Regions from separate parts of the Homo sapiens genome. Here region 1 is linked to region 2. Evidence: fine-mapped expression QTL. A gene starts in region 2. The other region holds a variant in brackets. All regions are shown on one strand. Distances are between the middles of the regions. Region 1 overlaps TNIP1 (TNFAIP3 interacting protein 1). Region 2 holds the start of GPX3 (glutathione peroxidase 3).

Evidence for each region. PIP is the estimated chance that this variant, and not a neighbour inherited with it, causes the effect.
Region 1: its variant is fine-mapped to the expression of GPX3 in whole blood (INTERVAL, PIP 0.92).

What each region holds. Positions count from the first base shown.
Region 1 is chr5:151,050,804-151,058,803 of GRCh38, forward strand. It overlaps TNIP1 (TNFAIP3 interacting protein 1), which reads right to left. Exons shown (of 18, transcript NM_006058.5): 6 at 5,963-6,154; 7 at 1,362-1,456. Among named protein-coding and RNA genes, the nearest start is that of TNIP1, 26 kb to the right of the region's middle. RefSeq lists an enhancer at 5,502-6,028. The variant T/C (reference allele first, on the strand shown) is at 3,083.
Region 2 is chr5:151,017,008-151,026,207 of GRCh38, forward strand. It overlaps GPX3 (glutathione peroxidase 3), which reads left to right and starts at 3,584. Exons shown (of 5, transcript NM_002084.5): 1 at 3,584-3,734; 2 at 8,333-8,486. The coding sequence starts at 3,648. RefSeq lists an enhancer at 5,029-6,228.

The sequences.
Region 1 (8,000 bases), 33 kb after region 2:
CTACAGGCACACCACCACACCCAGCTAATTTTTTTGGTATTTTTTGTTGGGGCTGGGGGAGGGGTGGTGATGTATTTCACCAGGCTGGTCTCAAACTCATGGACTCAAAGCAATCCTCCCGCCTTAACGTCCCAAAGTGCTGGGATTACAGGTGTGAGCCACAACGCCCAACCACCACTTCTTTATGTTCTATTTGCCAGCTGAGTTTCCGCTTGAAAAACCAATAAGTAAAATGACTTTCCCAAGGTCATACAGCAGAGACTTGCATTCTTGCCTTCTAATCCGTGACTTTTTTCCCCAGCTTCAGTTTCTGAATCCATGGATGGGGTCACTAGGGCTATAAAAACCCCAAAAGTGCATCCTTGGCCATCCAAAAGCAAATAAATTACACACTGATTCAAAATAGCCAGTGGCTCAGTAGTTAAACATTACTTCTGTGGCCATACTTACAAAGTTTATATTCCTTCTCTTTCTGTTGATTCTAATAAGAAACAGGAGAGGAGGGAAAAACAGAGTGGCAAGTCCTGTCTGTGACACGGGCCTTTCCTATGTGCCTGAGCCCAGCTGGTACCCACCAGATGACTCATCACCCAAACTGTCCAGGACCACAGTGCAGGCAGGAATTGTGGCCACTCACAGGATGGAGAGCAAGGAGGCCCAAGTTCCTGTTGTAAGACTCCAATCAAGTCCCTGCCTCTCCCTGGGCCTCAGTTTCCCCTCTGCACAGTGAGAGGTCTGTCTGCATGATCTCCAAGGGCTTGTCAAGCTCTGACAGTCAAGATCAGTGTTTCCCAAGGCGTGATCCTGTGCCTACCTCGTTCATAATCACAGAGACTCCTGGTGAAATGCAGGCTCCTAGGTCTTGCCTAAGACCTGTCAATTCAGAATCTTGCAAAGGAAGGAAGGGAAGGCGTATAAACTTGTAATGCCTTTCCCTGACCCTCAACCCTCAGTTAAGTCTAAGCCCCCTAGTCCAGTGGGGGAGCTCTCATGTTCTCAGGAAGACAGAGCAGGTTGGGATGGTGACCAGCAGGAGGCAGCAAAGTCCTGAGTCCTCTGGACAGCCAGTTCACCGTTAACAGGGGAGAGAGGCAAGTGCTGGAGGAGGAAGGAAGTACAATCTATGCTGACCTTCTTCTGAAGCTCTCAAGGCACTCTATACACCTCCCAAGGTGGCAAAAGGGCCAGAGAGAAAATACCAAAAGAGCCAAGGAGAAGGATCAAGAGACGTAACCTCCAAATAGGGCTCTGGGCACAGGGCCTCAGAGCCACGGTCCTCAACCCAGAAATCAGTGCTGCACACCAGCCCCTCCTCCTGCAGCCCCCACTCCTCACCCCTTCTCTGAGGGGCCTGAACTTACCGCAGCCTCTCGGCAGCCTGATCCCGCTGTTCCAGGCCCTTATCCAACTTGGCCTTCAGAGCCTCGTTCTCCTTCCGAAGCTGCTCACACAGGGTCTGTGGGGCAGGGGAACAGACAGGGTGAGGGAAAGGAGGGGCCCCTCCCAGGTGCAGGCTGAGCTAGAGGATGGTGGGGGGCCTGTAGCCACCCCAGGGCCCAACTCCTTATCCCCTTTGCCTGGCCTCACCCCATCCCTCTCTAAGGAGCTAAGCCACTTGGCCACCCACGTGTCCTCTCCCTTGGGAGCCAACTACGGAGAAGCCTGACCAAGTATCAGCCATGGGGCCTTCTGCTCCTCCAAGACAGACAGCTCCATCCCTTCTCCTTCATCCCTGCTCCCACTGCCGGGACCCCTATTCCCCACCAGCCTCCCCCAGCTGACTTCTACCCTTCTTTGAAGTCTTAGTTTAAATCCCATCTCCTCAGAGAAGTCCTCCCTGACTCCCCGATCCAGCTACATTAGGCTAACTCCGTTATCCTTGCTCACAGCCCCCCGCTTTTACGCTTCTCAGCACCTGTGGCAGATAAAGCTAAAGAACTGTTCGTGCTGCTGTTTTCTTAATATCTACCCCCTTACCCCTAATTAATTCCTGAGCTCCCGGAGGGCTGGGACCCCTAACCATCCTCTTGTTCACTGCCAGATCCCCAGCCCCCAGCTCAAAGTTTGTGGAAGGAACAACATGACTGAACAGCCAAATGAGCAAATGGACAAATGAGCAGGCGAGTCCTAGGGGGGCTGAAAGGCACACCAATTTGCAGGTGTGAGAGGTGCCCAGTGTTGCCAAGGGGAAAACCAGAAGACAAGGCATTCAGTCGGGACCTCACTATGCCCTCACGCCCTCACAATGTGGCTGTGACACTTGGTTCCTCCTCTACAAAAGAAAGACAACTGTTTCTCTTTTTTTTTTTTTTTTTTTTTTTTTTAAGACAGAGTCTCACTCTGTTGCCCAGGCTGGACTGCAGTAGCATGATCTCAGCTCACTGCAACCTCCACCTCCCAGGTTCAAGAGATTCTCCTGCCTCAGCCTCCTGAGTAGCTGGAACTACAGGTGTGTGCCACCATGCCTGGCTAATTTTTGTATTTTCAGTACAGACGGGGTTTCACCATGTTGGCCAGGCTGGTATCAAACTCCTGACCTCAAGTGATCCACCTGCCTCAGTCTCCCAAAGTGCTGGGATTACAGGCATGAGCCACCACACCTAGCCCAGGGACAACTGTTTCTTCTCTGCCTCCTCTATAGGGCTGCTGAGAGGGACAGATGAGACAGTGAGAGTGGAAGTGTCCATGAACCATCAGTCACTTGCTTATGTGCGGGGACTCATATTGGAAGCTCTGTGAACTGGGGGCATGGAAGAGGGGTCGCCAGACTCAGGACCTCACAGGCTGGGGGGAAGGGAAGGTGCTGACTAGCAATGCTAGCATACAGTGTCAGCACAGAGTTGTTCAATCTTTCCACAGATCCTCACTGAGCACCTCACCTGTGCCAGGTACATTGCTCGGTGTTTCTCCATATACTGCCTCACTGGTGCCTCACAACTTCCTCAAAGCTAAGTAACTCATCTCTATGTTAAAGGTAGGGAAACCAGGTAAAATGATACAGTCTAACAGGTGCACAGCTGCTAAGACTCATCACTGGCGGGGAGTAAAACTCCAATTGGCAGACCCCACACTGGTGTCTCTT[T/C]CCCCTGTGATGAAAGATCAGAGAAGGGAGAGAGATGGTGCCCAAAGGAGGGGACAGCCTTTGAGCTGGGCCAGGACCAGGGCCATTCACTAAACAGCCATCTGCTGCCTTCCACCTCCCAGGCCTGTTGCAGGTGGATGCAACCATGTGACTAGTTCTGGCCAACAAAAGAGGTGTAGAAGGGACAAGCATCACTCCTGGACTGGCCTACGCACAATTCTCCAGTCTCTTTTTCCTGGTAGCAGGGGCTGATGTGGATGCCTCGTATTCTAAAGGGCACCGGAAAGTTGGGCCCCTGTCTCCCTGGGACTCTAAGGAACTGTGTAGAGCAGAAACAAACCCCTGCCACACAGAATAGGAGGGAAAACTTTTGTTGTGTAACCCAGGGAGATTTCAGAGTTGTTTCATTTCTGACTCACAAAGGAGACTCTTGGGAAGGCTGAATGGAGGACACAGCCTTCAACTGGAGGTGGCTGGACAATGAGGGAGATGAGGCTTAGCAAACAGAGAACCAGCTGGGCATGGTGGCTCACACCAGTAATCCCAGCACTTTGGGAGGCTGAGGCAGGAGGATCACTTGAGCCCAGGAGTTCAACACCAGTCTGGGCAACATGGCAAAACCCTGTCTCTACTAAAAATACCAAAAAATTGGCCAGGCATAAGGGCGCATGCATGTAGTCTCAGCTATTCAGGGAACTGAGGTGGGAGAACTGAGCCCAGGAGGTCAAGGCTGTAGTGAGCTGTGGTCGCACCACTGCACTCCAGCCTGGGTGGCGGAGCAAGACCCTGTCCCCCAACACCCCTTAAAAAAAAGAAATCAAAAAATTATTGTTATGAGTCCATTCAATGCCTAGCAGAGAGCCTTATGCTATACCTGACCTTGAATATGTTTGTTTAGTGAACCAAGAAACACATCAGTGAATGAATGAGGAGGAACTGGATCAATACACCTCCACCCAGGCAGTAAAAATACCCAAGATGCCATGTCTCTGGGCGAGGCCTCCAGGGAACAGAATGGCCTGCTCCTAGTCCCTAAGGGAAGGCCAGGACAAGGCCTCACTTGCTGTCCTACCCTTGCAGTCTAGAGAGCTGTTTCCTTGGAGTCTCTGGGCCAATGCCCTGGGTGCAAACCGGCCAATGGATAGAATCATCAGAGGTCACAAAGATCATCACCTTCCATCCAAGGTGCTACGAGAGCTATGAGTTCATTTGATCATTTATTATTTTGTCCTTTCATTCATTCACCAAGTGTGTATGAAGTGCCACGAACTGGGACGCAACAGTGAATACAACAGACATGGTGCCTGCCCCCCTCAAGCTTACCTTCTAGCAGAGAGTATAAGAAAAAAAAGAGTATAAGAAAAAATGTATTAAATAAAATTATTACAAACTATGATAAGAGCTAAGAAGGAAATAAACAAGGAGGGGACTGAAATAAAAAATAACAGAGGTTGGCAGGACCCCTTTTAAGGGGCCTAGGATCTATCCCCATCTCAAAGCTGAAAAGTGGATGCGCAAAGTGCTCTCACCCCAGGCACCTTCCTACCCTGCCCACAGCCTAGGCACTGTGCCAGGCTCACCTTGCCAGGGTTCAGCCTGGATACCTTGAAGCCTCACTGACATCTTAAAGGGGTTCCCTTCTCTCAGCCTGGCTCTCCAGGCCTCTGCCTCTCGTTCAGCCTCACCTCCCAACACACCCCTCCCCTCCAGGTGGGATGGGCATCCTCCGTGCTCCTCTACCCCCACACCTCTCCTCATACTGCATCTCCAACCTGATTGCCCTTCATGCCCTCGGCAACCAAGGTCACGCAAGGGGGACTCCCCCTTCTGCCATCAGCGGGGCACTTGAGTGCCTGCTGACATGAATGAGACCACAGATCAGAGAATGGCCTGGGAGGAGAGTCTGCAGGGAGTAAGGAGGCTTCAAGTCATGGCTCTGTCACTAAGGTGGCGGGCACTCAGATCACGAGCAGTCCCTCAGAAGCCTCCGTTTTGCCATCTTTAGAATGGTCACCAATTATAACTGAACACTTCCCCGCTGCTAAAGCCCACAAGGCTAAGACCCCCTGCCCAGTGTGGATGCCCGTCATGAACTCCGAATGGGGACCTCTCTTCCAGCATGGACTAGGTTCTGGACTGCACTGGGTGCTTCATGTACATGGCCTCATTTAATGCAGCAATCTAACCATGGAGGCACTTCTAGCTCATGTTACTGATAGGAACATTGGGGGATAGAGAGGATAAGTGACTTGTCCAAGGTCATACAGCAATAAAGGGTCACTACTGGAACCAAGGACCATATAACTCCAAGGTCTGGCCTGGCCTAGCAAGGAAATCTGTCCATTCCCCACAGCACAGGGAGGCTTTCAAAAGGAATTCAATAGGGGAGGCAGGTTGGGATGGTGGTCAAGAGTATGGGCTTTGGAATGCGAGAGATCGAGGTTCCAATCCCTACTTCACCATTTACCAGCTGGGTGACCTTGGGCAAAAAAAGGGCTGCTTCCCCACCTGTGAAGTGGTGATAATGAGGGTGCCTACCCTGGGGGGAAAGAGGCATTATGAAAGGAGTTGACCTTTGTTCCCTCCCTTCCCATCCCCCAACCCTGCACATGAGAAATAAAGGCAGGGCTGCTGGGGGTATCCCCAACCATGACACTCGCATTGCCCATCCCGTATTTCCCCATTTCCTTCCTCTTCCTCATCCCTCCCCACAACTTCCTTATCCTGTTCATCACCCTGAACAAAAAGCCCGAAGTCTGCCCACAACACAGCCTTCAGAAGTCCCCATGGTACCAGTGGATTCCCAGGAGCAGGAAGGTGGGAAGAGCTCGGGGGGAAGCACGCCTGCCTGTCTCGGGCTGCCCTCCCCACGCGCCTCACCTGCAGAATGGAGGTGCGCTGCTCATTCTTGTGCACCTTGGATGCCAGTCGGTTGAACTCCAGGGCCATGCGGCCCAGGTGGGTGAAGAGCTGGCCGTGGTCCGGCTCCTCGGCACACACACTCAGCGTGGTCTCCAGGCGCTGCAGGTGCAGCATCAGGTTGCCGTCCTCACGGGGCAGGGGGCCCAGCGCCTGGAGAGGGAAAGGGCACACGGCCCACTCTTCACCAAGGCCTGAGTAGGCGCCGCCAGTCCATTCTCCCTCTGCTTCCTCATTTCTCATGACTCAGTTTCCCCCTGTGACCCCAGCTCAGCCCCGGGAAATTCTCCAGTTATGCAGGTTCCCTGTCTGGGGCTGACTCACAGGGCAGAACCCAGGACTCACAGGCCACTGGTGGCTCCACAGCAGCGGGGCCACCATCCTCCCACACACTGGGCCTTGCAGAGTGCCTGACAGTAAGTCACTTGTCTGCTGGACCTCAGCATCCTCATCTACCAAATGTCCGCACAACCCTTCCCTCCCTTCAACCTCACAGGGTTCTTAGGAGGATGAATTGACCCCTGACAGTAACAAGCCCAGAAAAGGGACATCACTGCACAGTCAGCCCTCCATATCCATGGGTTCCGCATCCATGGATTCAACCAACTGCAGATCAAAAATCTTCTAAAAAAACAAACTGGCCGGGCGCGATGGCTCACGCCTGTAATCCCACCACTTTGGGAGGCTGAGCGGGCAGATCACAAGGTCAGGAGATCAAGACGGCCTGAGTGGTGAAACCCTGTCTCTACTAAAAATACAAAAATTAGCTGGGCATGGTGGCACGTGCCTGTAATCCCAGCTACTTGGGAGGCTGAGGCAGGAGAACTATTTGAACCAGGGAGTCGGAGGTTGCAGTGAGCAGAGATCGCACCACAGCACTCCAGCCTGGGCAACAGAGCAAGATTCCGTCCCAAAACAAACAAACAAAAAACTGTATTGAACATGTACAGAATTTTTTTCTTGTCATTATTCCCTAAACAATACAGTATACCAAAATTTAGCATTTACATTGTATTAGGTATCGTAAGTAATCTAGAGATGATTTAAAGTATATAGGAGGATGTGTATAGGTTATAGGGAACTACTACGCCATTTTACATCAGGGACTTGAGCATCCATGGATTTTGGGTATCCTCAGGGAGTTCTGGAACCACTCTCCCATGTTTACCAAGGGACATCTGCATATACGTCCTGCAACCTCCGCCTCCTGGGTTCAAGCGATTCTCCTGCCTCAGGCTCCTGAGGAGCTGGGATTACAGGTGTGCACCACTACACCAAGCTAATTTTTGTATTTTTAGTTGAGACGGGGTTTCACCACAATGGCCAGGCTGGTCTTGAACTCCTGACCTCAGGTGATCCACCCACCTCGGCCTCCCAAAGTACTGAGATTACAGGCGTAAGCCACCATGCCTGGCCTACACATGTGTCTTCTGGGGAATGGCCCAAGCATTCATCAGCTTCTGAGGACCCAAGACTCAAAACAGTTTAAGGAACCACAGCTTTAGCTATTTCAGAAAGTCCCAAACTAGTACAGTATGTAAGAAATAAAGCACACCGTGGGCCAGATAGTTGACTCTTTCTCTCTAGTCTATCTGGAATACTCCTACCAAAGACATTGCCTTTGTTACACCAATTCCACTCCCAAGGACCTGCAGTGTTACCCTACTGCAGACGGCACTGGGCCCAGCTCCCCTGCTGGGCATCTAAGGCCCTACAGCCGCAGGTCCCATCCACAGCAGCATCCAGTTGGGCTCCCCACTTTACCCTGCCTGAACCCACACACACCAGGTCTGGTGTCTCTGCATGTGTCCTCTCTGTGTCCTCTCTGCCTCTGCAAGTTCTGCTCATCCTTCCCACCCTGTCCACGGCTCAGCTCCTCCAGCAGCCTCCCGGAAACAGTTATGGGAATCACAGGACAGCAGAGCTACAGGGAGCCTCAGAGATCAGGCCGGGAAACCAAGCTATGGGGAGGAGGAACTTGCCCAAAGTTGCCCTGTAA
Region 2 (9,200 bases):
TTAGAGTGGCTGATCCCATCTTTGAGTTCAGAACCTGAAATGTTTACTAACCAATAATAAGGCTGGCTTTCGTTGTTTTAACTTTTTACAATCCTTTGAGTTTATTAATTTGTGTTCTATCTTCCTTGAAGACACAGTGCATCAGCACTTTTTGTAAAACCTCTTTTTAAGTCATCTTCGGTCTCTGTTCACCTACCAAGTAGGTAAGTAGTGAGCTCCCTATAGAGGTCTCTAAAAAATAGGATGAAGAGGTTCCGAGTGCTCACTTGTCTGGAATGCGGAAGACGTGTTCTCAGACTGGAAGCAAAACTAGCTTATGATTCTTCTACAGCTTCTCCTTCCATCCCTCCCTTCCCATTTTGGCCAATGCAAATCATCTACTCTCCTCTGACAAGCCTACTCATCATAACCCGCACGTCTTGAATCTTCCTAGAAGATGAAATCAGACCAGTCTTGCGGGCTCTACATGGTTACAACTTGCTAACTTGAAGCTCTCCTTATTCTATATGCCAAATATTGTTTTCCTTGACATTAATTTATTTGATAGATATGTATCAAGCAACTACTATGTATTAAGCTCTGTGCTGGTGCTGGTGCCTTTTTGGATCTTATAATTTAGTGCAGAAAATAGACAAACAAGAAATGATGATAAAGTACAACAAAGGGTCGATGTACAAAGTGTCAAATACTCTAGGAACTACAGGAAAACAAGGGAACCATCACGAAACCCCTGTCTTAAGACGTGACATTAGTGGAGATATGAAAAATGAGTAGGATAGTACCAGTTAAAGGGAGACAACCTCTGTTCCAAGCACAGGGAACAGCAGAGATGAAACCTGGAAGTGAGGGAGAATGGCAGACTGCAAGAACGGAAAAATGTCCAGTGTAGCGGAGGCAGAGAGAATATGGAGAGTGTGGCAAAAGAGGAAGAAGCAGATGGATTTTGAGGGCACTTTCTGAAGTGCTAAGGAATTTAGACTTTAACCTGAGGGCAATCAGAAGCAGCCTGGTGGAGAACGATATATTTCAAAACATAGGGTCCTTGAAAACAAGTCAACCAAATGTATTTAAAAGGCTGCTGATGAAAAGATTGGGAAGTATTGTTTTCATTCTCATTGTTTTCACTGTCATGCTCTTTGTGCCAATGGTTAGACCTCCTTTGAAAGCTCACTGCAGCATGAAAGCCCTTCTTAATGCCAGGGCAGGCTCCCCAAGCCTCCCCACCCCACTGTCCATGTCATCAGTTTTGTACTCCTGTTTTGTATGGCTCAGGCTTTCCTTATACTCTTAGGAATGAAAAGCCACAGACACCACCACTGAGAGACTGTCAAAGATCCTTGTTAAATAGGTGGACAACTGAGATCAGAGAAGGAAAGTAATTTTATTACTTTCCGTAGCAATCCAGGGGTAGCATCTCAGGTCTCTGGCTCCTTCTTGTCTCCCCTAAAGAAATAGACCACCAGGGCTGGGATTAAGGTGAGACAAGTGAGACATAGAGGGTGCAAAATGTAGAGAGATGCCCGCTGCCAGGTGCCAGCCTGCACTTGTGTGACCCTAGGTGCCTTCCCTTCCCTCACCCTGCTGGTATCTGCTGGAAACACCTTTGAGAGCAGGGACTTTGGCTTTTAGACAACTCTTTAGCATCTCTCATGGTGTTAACATGTTGCTAGGTGCCTATTTTGAGGGTCACTAGATGCCTACTGATACTAATGAACAATGGATTTCTGACAAACTGATGTGCACACAGATGTTTATATTTTAGGGTAAATACGAACCTTAAAAGACAACAGAACAACATGGAGAGGGCCTGAGACTGAGTCTAGAGACCTGGATTCTGGTTCCCTCCCTGCCATCAGTTGGTTATGGGAACTTGGATAAATTGCTCCTCATCTCTAGGCTTCAGGGAAATGAGGTGGTTGAATAAAACGTATTGAGCACTTACTGTGTGTCAGCCATTGTTCATATGCTCCCAGGCTTTAACTCAGCTAAAGACTTCCTGGCCTCTGTGGTTCCTTCCACTTCAACAGGCTGTGGTTTGAGGTGGGAAGACTTCGTAGAGAATGCAAAACTTGAGAGACATCTTCCAAATTCCCAGGGGGATGTTAATACCTTTAATCATAGTAAAGGTATGGTTTCTCAAGGCATTTCTTGGTCAGAAGAAAGTTCCAGAAGGCACTTAATCCTAGGACTCACACTACCAAGGCTACAGCCAGGCCAACTGCCTCACAATAACCTTAGAACATGTCTGAAGACAGATTTTCAGCTTCTGCCCCTAGAGATTCTAATGCAGTGATTCCAAAGTGGGGTCCAGGAATCTGTATTAAAGGCTTCCCAGTTGACTCTGGTGGTCAGAGAGATTTGAGACTGATTCCATCACATTCCCCATCTGTGAACGGGATCATACCTAGACAGCCCAGCCCTAGAACTGCCTGGTCTGATCCTAAGTGTTCCATGGAGATTTTGTTTTTTTAATGTAATGAATGATTAAGTCAGCAAATACTTTACATCTCTTGTGTGCTAGGCCCTGTGCCAGGTGGTGATTATGGGCCCTATTCTCAAAGGACTCCTGGTCTCCGTCTGTCACTTACTTTAGAAACAAGTCATCTAGCCAGAGCCAGAAGGGCACTGGAGATCACTAATCAATCCCATCATTACATAGCTGAGGAAACTGAGGCCCAGAGAGTAACTGCAACATGTTAAAGACTACACAGGGAGCAAATTTATTTTCTGCTTCTAAGCCAGGTGGTTTGGCCACAGATAGGCCAAGAAGAATACGAACAGACAAGCCTTGCTGGGTTTCCCACTCAGTTTATTACTATTAGACCATTCCCTTTTTCCCCACTCACATTTCTGCGCATTTCCATGGTCTTCATAGAATCTAAGCCTAAAAATAGAGTTTTCCTTGAGTCTTTGGGTCTTCATTTCTGAAGACTCTCATGTCACAGAAAACTTTAATTAAATAAATCGTTATGCTTTTCTCTTGCTAACCTTTTTCTACAGGCATGTCAGCTGTGATCCTTATGATGGGGAGGAAAGGCACCCCACCTTCTCTGTCCCTACAGTCCTAATGCCCTACCCAGAATGGGGTTTTCAAAATCCCAGGACACCCACTCTTTGTTTCTTAAGCACTAAACCTATATATAGTAAATGTTTCTGGAAGTTTAACTTCAGCTCTTGCTGAAATTTTAAACCCTCAATTTCCAGAGGACCATCGCCAGGTGTTTTTAAAACCTCGATAGGAATAAGAAATGCTTCCCAGAATGGAGACTTCCATCAGTTCTAGGGAGCTATTAGCCCCCTTGCCCTGGCTGTAATGGAGACCGCTGTGTCTGCCTCCTTTCGCACTTTGGAGCCAAAAGAGGAAGGGACCGCCTCCCACGTCCACAGGGACCTGACTTCCACCTCTCTGCCCAGATTTGCTTATGTCACTGTCGCCCCGGGACGGGGAGGTGGGGAGCTGAGGGCAAGTCGCGCCCGCCCCTGAAATCCCAGCCGCCTAGCGATTGGCTGCAAGGGTCTCGGCTTGGCCGCGGATTGGTCACACCCGAGGGCTTGAAAGGTGGCTGGGAGCGCCGGACACCTCAGACGGACGGTGGCCAGGGATCAGGCAGCGGCTCAGGCGACCCTGAGTGTGCCCCCACCCCGCCATGGCCCGGCTGCTGCAGGCGTCCTGCCTGCTTTCCCTGCTCCTGGCCGGCTTCGTCTCGCAGAGCCGGGGACAAGAGAAGTCGAAGGTGAGTGAGCCTCCGGGCCGGGGGCCGGGAGAAAAAACCTAGCCCCTCGGTGTCCAGCGCTCAGTGCAATGCACCCCTTTTCCCAGGCTCCCCGCCAGATGGGCAATCCCCAGGTGCGAGAGACCTCCTGAACCCCTTTTGCCGCCCCCTCCGCCGCCGGGACCCCGCCCCCGACCGTCGTCGTCTCGTAGTTCCATCTGTTGGAGAGCCGAGACCTGGTGCTTCAGGCGGGCAGAATGACTAAGGGAGGAAGGTCTCTCTCCCCGAGCTCGCACTTTCTCCCCACTGCCACCTCGAGGGTCGCCTTGCTACATCTATGTCACCTCCGTGCCTGAGCTGCTCCCCTTCAGTAGGGCCTAAGAGGGAGGGCGTCACAGAAAAAAATGCCCAGCGTCTGGGTGGGCTGTGCAAGTTCCCAGGGAGAGAGACAAGGAGAAAGGAGAGAGGCAGCTGGGTGGTCCTGGTCCTGAAGAACTGCTGTGGGGGGCTCTTCTACCCCAAGAATGATACAGGCAGGTAGAAATGGCCACTTGGATTCAGGGCATTGGTAGAAGAGGCAGAGATCTGTGCTAGAAAGAGCTCTGGAGTGACAGTGCAGAACACTCAGGACCCTGAGTCCTTACCTGCTCCTGGACCCCCGTTTCTCCATCTGCAGGGGAGAGTTTGGGGGTGGGAGTGCATGGGGCACAATGAAGCTGAGGGCCTCAGAGGGGATGCTTGGAGAAGCTGAAAAATCCACAAGCTGTTCTCTGAAATTTCCTCCCCTGGGGCAGCCTCACTACCCAGGACCCACTGTCCTCATTAGCCTGAGGAAACCTGGTAGTTGGAGAAAGCTGGGGACTGCTAATTCAGAAGAAGAGGTAGAATTCTCTAGAGCCTCAGTCTATTTCCAGCAGGTGTGTGGCCCACACCTGGAGTGGGGATACTGAGGCCAGGAGTGGGATGACCCAGCATGCTTATCTCCTTTGACAGTATGTACTGGGGTGGGCTCTGTAGACCTCTCCTCTACCCAGGGAGTGGGAGTGGGTGGGGAAGGAGGCAGAAGCCAGGTGTAGGGATAGACTCAAAGCGAGCGATTTCTGTCTCCAACTTCCCAACATGCATAACTCACATTTTTGCAAGCTCTGAGCTTTTGTTTCTAAAATCCTCTGGGTCTTCACTTTAATTAAGTTCTTATGAGTCTAGGATTCCGTTTCCAAAATTCTGTCCACTTCTCAGGAAGCCCATTGGAAGCACAGGGTTCCTTCCATGTTACTCACCCCTTTTCGGTCCTCAGCCTAAATCCGATTAATCAGCCTCTCCTTGGAGTCAGTCTAAATGGATGTGAAGCCACTTCGTCCAAGTCCCCTCCTTTTTATCCATCCCTGTTCATAATCCCCAACTCAGAAGGCATTTTCCAGGTCAGGAATGGGATCGATTTTCAACATTGAGGTTTGGGGTGGGCCATAGACAGGCCAGCACCGTGGAGTCAGTCCCAACCTTCAGTTTTGGAAAGGTCAAAGAAGATACAATTGGGCCCTGCCTCAAGAAGGCTAGTGGGGAGAACGTGGACTCCATGAATAACTCATCATAGCTGTGTCTTCTCTGCAGCACTCTGGGGAAGGATAAATGGACTCAGAGAGAATAGGATGGGGATGGTCTAGAAAAGTTTTAGGGTGAGGTGTGATCATATCACATACAACCAGTCAGGACTTGCTGGCTAATGAAAGCCTGGGCATGCCCATCTCTGCTCCCAAGTTCTTAGAGTTCAGATGTCTTAGCTCTGGGTTAGGACCCAACCACTCACCTTACCCCCAACCCCAGGGTAAAGAGATAGGGTTATGGGGCATGTGGAGAATGGAATGGACGAAAGGTGACTCAGCCCCAGAGAGGTGTTTTCCTCCTACCAATTGAAAGGGAGATGCTAGGGAAGAGACCAGGTCCTCCTCTTCTTGCTGCGTCACCTCCCCAGTCCAACTTCAGGCTGCCCACGCTCCTTGTCTCTACAAAAGGACTGCAGAAGCCGGAAAGAGTGACAACTGCTGACGTGCACGGGATCCTAGTAACTGCTGGTTTCTAGGTGACTAAACCTGGCAGAGAGAATCATGGAACCACAGGCTGACAGAGTTAAAGGGCCCTTAAGACAGCCCTGAACCTGACTCCATCTTACAATGGAGGAGCTGGAGCCCCAGCAAAGGGGGTCACATGGCATCAGAGACACAGCAAAGCCCAGCACTCAGGTCTCCTGACTCCCAGACCACTTCTCACAGCATCATATTGATAGGAGTAATAAGACGGGAGAGGAGAAAGACACAAGACCAGCAGCCCCAGCCAGCCAGAGTCCTGGCTGAGTCCCATCATCCAACTCTCAAGCCATTGGAACCCTCTTCTCTTGCCCGGCTGTGGGAGGATTCAGGCACCCTCATGGCCTCTCCCCTTATCTCCTCTGGCCACTGTTTCAGATGCGGTGCTCTGGGATTCCACGTGCCCAGAGAAGGGAAGGGGGCTCATAGAGGACTGAGTTGCAGTGATCAGTGGTGAGCACAGCCGTGGCTCTCCACCCATGGGCCACCTTCTGACCCCCACTATCCCTTGACATGAGATTTCGTTCCAAGAGACTCCAGGCCTGTTTTGCTCTGCCAGCAGATTCCCACAACCATTTTGGGCAGCAGCATGCTTATCTCCCTGGACATATGCCCAGACAGTGTAAGTGACTTGCTCAGGGCCACACAGCCAGCAAAAAATAGAACCTAATGAAATAGGGTTCTCCTTGCCACACCCCCAAGCTGAAACTGTGCCCAGAAGCTGGTCCTTCTGTTTACAAGTTCCCATTATTAGGACAACCTGTAATCTTTTTTTCCTCCATGTCTCAGAGTTCATTTTTGGATCATGGCAGAGTTAAAAAAGTGGAGAGGCTATAGACATGCCTGGCTTTCTGGCCACTAGATCTTTGTGGCGGTCTAGGGTGTATTTGTTGTGCCCCAGTTTGTCTGCATTTTAAGGCGGAACTGGCCCTGGCTGGGAACGAGGAGGTCCAGGAGCAGTAGGAATGTTGATCTTAGGTCTTGGGCCTGCCTCCAGCACCCACCAAAAGTCACCGGATGTGGAATATTAGACTCATGTAAAGCAGGAAGTTTGCACCAGAGCCAAGAAGAGAGCTTGCAGCTGCCAGGGAATGGCCTGGCGGAGGAAGCGCAGCCTCGCCCAGCTCAGCAGACCTGCTTCATGACAGAGGCAGCTCTTCTGCACTCTACTGGGGCCACGCCCTGCCAGCATATATCACTCCCTTCACCTGGTCAGGCCCAGGTACCTTGCCTCAACAGCAAGTTCTCCAGAATTGAGGGGAAGAGAGGGAGTGAATTTGCTTCTCTAACTCCAGCCACCTGTCTCTGCCCTCTCCTGGTCTATAATGCTACTTTGCATTCCATTTGTTTATTGTCTGCCCACCTCTCAAAGGATATCAGGGCCACAAAGGACCTTAAAGACCACCTTATACAATGGTTTCAAGGTTTCTCCTTTCCCATCACGACCAGCCCACCTGCCAAATTGTGTCAATGATGCAATGACATCCTTTCAAGAATAGTCTCAGAATTTTGTTGTCTGTGTCACGGGCAGAGTAGGCTCATAGGCCACATCCTACTAGCCAGCAGTGACCCCAATCCCCTCTCTCCCACTGATCATGATCCTATCAAGCCATCATGGTTGACCTGGTTGGAGAGTTGGTTCAGTTCAAGGTTCTCATTTTATAAATGAGGAAACTCAGGTCCGAAGAAAAGAAAGGGCCAGTCCAAGACCACACAGGGAGTTAATGGCAAAGGGACATGGAGCCCAGGTCTCCCAGCCCACAGTCCACTGCACTCTGTCCCTCCTTGTCCTGGAGGCTGACTGTGAGCAGCAGCTGGGGAGGGAGGAAGGCATAAGGGTCATCACCAGCCTGCTCAGACCCGGAACATTAACACATGCAGGTACTGTTGCTTTTCCCTACCTCACCACAGCCCTTTCCCCCATGCCTGGCTCTCAGTCCTGCTTCCCTATTTGGTAACAACAGCTTCATCTTTCCTGTCCTGCAGATTGGGAGCCTCTGAATCACCATGTCCATACGGCCTCTTCCTCCTTTCTGTTCAGTTTTTCCTTCACACTGGCCTAGTTCAGGTTCTCATCCTCAATTGCCTGGATTATTCCAACAGCCACCCAACCAGTCTCCATCAGCCCGTCTAGGAACCCAGTCATCAGCTTTAGGGCAGTCTCCCTGAGAGCCCAGTAAATGTTCTGAAATTGACATGTGATGTGGAAGTAATTAGCAAAATAAGTCATTCTCCAGGGTTCCATAGCACTCACTTATTAAGTGCTTAATATTAATAAGTGCTTATTAGGTGCTTAATATTAATAAGTGCTTTTTAAGCACTTAATATTAAGTACCCGAAAAGCACTTATTAAGTGCTTTCATAATCATTATCTTAAACAAGGAATTAGGAGACGTCAGTGCTAGTCCAGTTCCAATTCTCGGTGATTACTTTGAGAAAGTCACTCTCTCTGTTGGGATCTTTCATTCTTTTGAAAACGGAGATGTCCAAGTTCCTTTCCAGCTCTAACTGCTCCTTTTATGGCCTGTGTTCCAGATGGACTGCCATGGTGGCATAAGTGGCACCATTTACGAGTACGGAGCCCTCACCATTGATGGGGAGGAGTACATCCCCTTCAAGCAGTATGCTGGCAAATACGTCCTCTTTGTCAACGTGGCCAGCTACTGAGGCCTGACGGGCCAGTACATTGGTAAGAGCCCACCCTTCCTCCCTGCTTTATTTGGGGCTGTATGGCATATTTCAATCACAGGAGCTTTTCTGGTGCATGGGGGAAAGGGTGATGGCAATCACGAGAGTCCAAGCCCCTTTTCTCAGCTCCACTGTGTTCCGTGGTTTTGTGAAGATGATTATATAAGCCTGAGGTCTGATTGCCTTTGGACATGTTCTAGGAGATTCCTAGTTATCCTTCTTCATCTCTGGGCACCTCAACAACCCTAAAGGCAGAGGGATAGAGATTAGGTTTGTGCTTAGAGCTCCCTTTGGCTGGAGCATGAGATGGTAACTGAAGCTCCATCTTGCTGAGAATATCTTATTTTCCCTCAGCCCCATCTGCTTTGGTGCTTCTCTTGGCAGCTCTCTGGAAAGCAGGCAATTGCCTCGAGGCCCCAGAGTGTATGCGTGGTGTAGCGGGATGAAGGAGCAGGCTACACTTCTAATGCCCATTCTAAAATAAACTTTGAAGATGATCTAGTTTAGCCTTCCCCTCTTCTCAATCTACACATGGGAAACCAAGACTCAGAGCGAAGATACAACTTAAACAGGGTCACAAAGCTATTAGCGGTGGAATGGGGCATTTGGCGCAGGTTTCATGATCTCCTGATATGCTTACTCCTTTCTCCCTAGCTGGGGTAGAATACAGAGGCTAGGGGAACAGGCAACCAAAGGCAAGCGACAGCACCCAGGG